Regions from separate parts of the Homo sapiens genome. Here region 1 is linked to region 2. The links come from fine-mapping of genetic effects on gene expression. A gene starts in region 2. The other region holds a variant in brackets. All regions are shown on one strand. Distances are from middle to middle.

Region 1 (3,023 bases), 36 kb before region 2:
CAGCCTGGGTGACAGAGTGCGACTCTGTCTCAAAAAACAAAACAAAGCAAAACAAAACAAAACAAAACAAAAACTCTAGAAGGCCAGGCACGGTGGCTCATGCCTGTAATCCCAGTACTTTGGGAGGCCAAGGCGGGCGGATTGGTTGAGGTCAGGAGTTGGAGACCAGCCTGGCCAACATGGTGAAACCCCGTCTCTACTAAAAATACAAAAAGTAGCTGGGCATGGTTGCACACATCTGTGATCCCAGCTACTCGGGAGGCTGAGGCAGGAGGATTGCTTGAACCTGGGAGGTGGAGGTTGCAGTGAGCTGAGATCGCATTGCTGCACTCCAGCCTGGGCAACAGAGTGAGGCTCTATCTCAATAATTAATTAATTAATTAAAAATAAAAAATAAATAAAAATCTAGAAGAAGCAGTTGGCCTTCTTTGTACAGAGGCCTGGAAGAAGAGGTTCTGCAGAAATAGTGAATGGTGGATGATGGTTGCCAAGATACAGTTATGTTAGCCCCTGAACCTTCTCTATTTCAAACTAGGCATCTCTAGTTATTTTAGTTCTTTCACCTTCTCCCTATTATGCCCAACTCCATTAGACACGTGGTATATGACCTTGGGCTTCTTTTGCTTTCATTTCTACATTTTAGAACAGGAACAATGCCTGTTATCACTCAAAATGTTAAGGGGACAGGCAGGGATGAGGGAAGGACCAATGAGGGGAGACTACCTACATTTGCCAATGTTTAAGATGCACAAGACAGTAAAACTATCTCCATTACACAGTGAATTTGTGTGTGTGTGTGTGTGTGTTGGTGGGGGGGGTCTCAACTCTTTATCATACTTGTTTTAAAAGTGATTTAATAGTGTTTTTCAGGGGCAAAATTTAGTTCATTCATTTAAATATTGAATTCTGGAGCAGTGGTGAGATAATACAAACTTGTGTTTGCAGTTAAGCCAATCTGTCATTTCATATCTCCTTCTCTTGGCTTCCTGTCATAATAACAGTATGCTATAGACACTGAGTAATGTACATATACATTTGGCGGAAAGTATATTGAATACAGGTACATATGGTAACATCAACTGCAGGACTGTGTGCTAGATATTTACATTTCTTATCTCACCATATTTAATCCTTACAAAAATCTTGTGAGATTCTTATTGCCTTTTACAGATAAGACTGAGCTTTATGTGATCTGACTTCCCCAAGGAGACACAATGTCAGGCAGAACCAGGATTTGAACTTGGATATGCATGATTTGAGGGAGCTTTTCTTCTTCTTCTTCTTTTTTTTTTTTTTTTGAGATAGAGTCTAACTCTGTTGCCTAGGCTGGAGTGCAGTGGCACGATCTCTGCTCACTGCAGCCTTCACCTCCCATGTTTGAGTTATTCTTCTGCCTCAGCCCCCCATGTAGGTGGGACTACAGGTGAGTGCTACCAAGCCTGGCTGATTTTTGTATTTATAGTAGAGACAGGGTTTCACCATGTTGGCCAGTGTGGTCTTGAACTCCTGACCTCAGGTGATCCACCTGCCTCAGCCTCCCAAAGTGCTGGGATTACAGGCATGAGCCACCATGCCTGGCTTTTTCTTCTTGTTTTTTGTTTTTTGTTTTTTTTTT[G/T]ACAGAGTTTTGCTGTGTCGCCCAGGCTGGAGTGAAATGGCGTGATCTCAGCTCACTGCATCCTCTGCCTCCTGGCTTCAAGTGATTCTCCTGCCTCAGCCTCCCAAGTGGTCGGGATTACAGGTGTGAGCCACTACACCTAGCTAATTTTTGTATTTTTAGTAGAGACGAGGTTTCACCATGTTGGCCAGGTTGGTCTTCAACTCCTGACCTCAGATGATCCACTCACCTTGGCCTCCCAAAGTGCTGGGATTACAGGCGTGAGCCACTGTGCATGGCCCTTTTCTTCTTCTATGATCACCAGAGTTGTCACTTCCCTGACCCTCACATTAATGCTGTTGGTTTTGAAAGCCAGCCAGGCTGAAGTGAGATCCTTCTGATGGACATATCGATGCAGGGCAAATAAACGATTTGCTCCAGATGACTCACTGTAGCTAAGACTGGAATCTAGTTTTCTTGACCATCTGCCAAACCAGAAAGTACATCTTAGATCAAAAGATGAGGGAGCCTCTTCTTACTGTGTAGCAGGATGAGCCGCAGACAAAACCCCTCAGACACAGGGCTAAAGAAGGAAGAGGCTTTATTTGGCCGGGAGCATTGGCAGACTTGCGTCTCAAGAACCGAGCTCCCCAAAGAAAGAGTTCCTGGCCCTTTTAAGGGCTTACAACTCTAAGGGGTCCATGTGAAAGGGTCGGGATAGATTGAGCAAGCATGGGGTAGGTGACTAGGTGAGGATTGTGAGCAAGGCAAGTATTTTTCCATACCATTTTCTGTGATCTATAGATAGCACAAGTGGTTAGGGTGGGGATTAATCTTTAACCTACAGGCCTGGCCAGTGGCCCCAATCAGTCTATTATTTTTCAGTTTTCACTTCCTCCTTTTTCTTTGGAGACAGGGGAGAGTAGGAGAAATGGCCTCTCTCCTCAGCTGCAGCAACACCGACACTGACCAAGAAAACAAGAAAGGGATTAGCATGTCTCCCCTTCTCCTTAGGTTCTGAAATAGGATTCTGACGTTTCAGATGGGCAAAAGAAGGTCCTTGCAAAGCTGTTCAAATAGCAAGAATGATATGGGGTCATATTATCAGGGACTATAGGTACCGGAGTAGGGAATTCAGCTTTCTTTGGGCTATACTTTTGTCCAGGTTTCTTAAAGCTTCAGCTTTGGATTTCAAAATATAAGTGGACAAAGTTAAGGGGGCAGAAAAGCAATCATAAATATATTTATTTATTTGAAAAGCTTTTACATAGTTCTTACTTTGTGCTAGGTGCTGTTCTAAATATTTTACCTGTATTAACTCATTTAATCCTCATAACAATGTTATGCAGTGGGTACAATTATTATCCCCATTTTACAGATGAAGATATTGAGGCTCTGAGAGGTGAAATGTTTACCCAAGGCTACAAAG
Region 2 (2,500 bases):
CTGGGACCAGTCTGCCTTTCTTTGTAGGTGTAACAAATTAGCTACAAGATTATAAATTACAGTTTAGGGGCCATGCAGCCTCTGGCTGCAAGAATCTGAACCTCCCCAAATTGCTTCTGGGAATAACATCACCATTGCAAATCCTAAGATCAGTGCTTGAGATATTTTGCAGACCCTGCATTCTCATGCAGCAGAGGACACCACCCAGACTGATAATCTGGCTCAACTAGCTCCACGATCCCACCCAGGAAGAACTCGCAAGAACTCACTTCGACCCCGTGATTTAATCTTCATCCCGACCAACTAGCACTCCCCACTTTCCGAACCCATACCTGCCAAATTATCCTTAAAAACTCTGATTCCAGAATGCTCAGGGAGACTGATTTGAGTGATAATGAAACTCTGGTCTCCCGCACAGCGCTCAGCGTGAATTATTCTTTCGCCATTGCAATTCCCGTCTTCATAAATCAGCTCTGTCTAGGCAGCGGACAAGGTGAACCCATTGGGCGGTTACACTTTCGTTTTCAATACATCTCTGCTTTTATTGCTTCATTCTTTCTTTGCTTTGTGCATTTCGTCCAGTTCTTAGTTCAAGACGCTAAGAACTTGGACACCCTCCACGGGTAACAGGACTACAGGTGCCCGCCACCACGTCTAGCTAATTTTTTGTATTTTTAGTAGAGATGGGGTTTTGCTATGTTGCTCAGGCTGGTCTCGAACCACTGGGCTCAAGCAATCTGCCGGCCTTGGCCTCCCAAAGTGCCGGGATTAAAGGCGTGAGCCACCGCGCCTGGCCCACTAAACTTCTCTGTGCATCAGTTATTTCATTTGCCTAATGAGGATAACAGTAGTCACTACTGCGTTTTGTGAGCGTTGGTTAATATATGAAAAATGCCACGTGTTTGCCATTAGCATCAATCATGCCATAACCAGAAAAATTACATTGCATTTTTTATTTTAAAAAAGGTGGGGGCCAGAGTGGACCTGGGCCTCTTCCAACTTCTGAGAGGTCTCTATTACTAAGTAAGCCTTAAGAAGCAGAATTCCATGAAGGGAGCTAGGAAACCAGGATTTTCCAAAAGGAGGTGGCATTTGCATTGATCCTGGTAGGGCAGCCTCGAATTCCACGGGGTTGGGGTTGCGCCTTTTCCAAGGCAGCCCTGGGTTTGCGCAGGGACGCGGCTGCTCTGGGCGTGGTTCCGGGAAACGCAGCGGCGCCGACCCTGGGTCTCGCACATTCTTCACGTCCGTTCGCAGCGTCACCCGGATCTTCGCCGCTACCCTTGTGGGCCCCCCGGCGACGCTTCCTGCTCCGCCCCTAAGTCGGGAAGGTTCCTTGCGGTTCGCGGCGTGCCGGACGTGACAAACGGAAGCCGCACGTCTCACTAGTACCCTCGCAGACGGACAGCGCCAGGGAGCAATGGCAGCGCGCCGACCGCGATGGGCTGTGGCCAATAGCGGCTGCTCAGCAGGGCGCGCCGAGAGCAGCGGCCGGGAAGGGGCGGTGCGGGAGGCGGGGTGTGGGGCGGTAGTGTGGGCCCTGTTCCTGCCCGCGCGGTGTTCCGCATTCTGCAAGCCTCCGGAGCGCACGTCGGCAGTCGGCTCCCTCGTTGACCGAATCACCGACCTCTCTCCCCAGCTGTATTTCCAAAATGTCGCTTTCTAACAAGCTGACGCTGGACAAGCTGGACGTTAAAGGGAAGCGGGTCGTTATGAGGTAATTCTGCACGTTTGCCCGCGTGCTCTCTGTGCTCTGTCGCAAACCTCTTTGGCCGGAGCCGACTTGTTCTCTCGTCTGCTCTAAGTTCTTTTAGCTTTTGGCTGGGCCCCAGGGGTCCTAGGCTTGGAGGGCGAGGCTGCTCACGGGTTTGGTGGTTTCTAGCCGCATTTTCCCCAGCCCAGAAAGCACCCGAAGTCACCCTTCGGGGATGGATCCCACTGAGGAAGGGCTGAGATTGCCGCTGGGACCCATTTTGTCCTTTTTCCTATTGGTGAAATGCAGTTCCGTTGCCTCCAGCTCCCAGTCGGCGAGATGGGACTTAATGCTTATCCTGCAAATCTCTAGGCTTCAAGGAAGGGACCTTGAAAGGTCATTTTACTTTCCCTTCCCCCACGCTCCTAGACCGTCGCAGCCAAATGAGAAACGGCCCACATCTCACAGGTTCCTGCACAAAAGGATATTTTTCCAAGAGGATGTTGATTTAACTTCAGGAGTAGACCCCCCCGCCCCCCGCCACTAAAGAATTGGGGTGGGAGGGTAGGGCGGGGCGAACTGGAGGAGGCCCTGCAGAGCTTACGTAACAGGCGTCTGCTGCCCTGCAGCGCGGTATCGTTGGACTCTTGGGCACAGGATTTGCATCAGGATTGTGACATACTAGGTAATGGTAGAGCAGGGTGTGGCTGCTCATACTTGCTGGCCTCCAATCTCATCCCCACGTGTGGCTAGAAAAGTAGAATTTTAAAATTGGGGGAAGTTTCCTCGTGCACTTTGGGTCTCTTA

The links.
Region 1: its variant is fine-mapped to the expression of PGK1 in blood mononuclear cells (TOPMed, PIP 0.97).

Annotation. Positions count from the first base shown.
Region 1 is chrX:78,066,915-78,069,937 of GRCh38, forward strand. No RefSeq gene overlaps it. Among named protein-coding and RNA genes, the nearest start is that of PGK1, 36 kb to the right of the region's middle. The variant G/T (reference allele first, on the strand shown) is at 1,616.
Region 2 is chrX:78,102,689-78,105,188 of GRCh38, forward strand. PGK1 (phosphoglycerate kinase 1) reads left to right here and starts at 1,560. Exons shown (of 11, transcript NM_000291.4): 1 at 1,560-1,717. The coding sequence starts at 1,653. RefSeq lists a silencer at 1,447-1,506.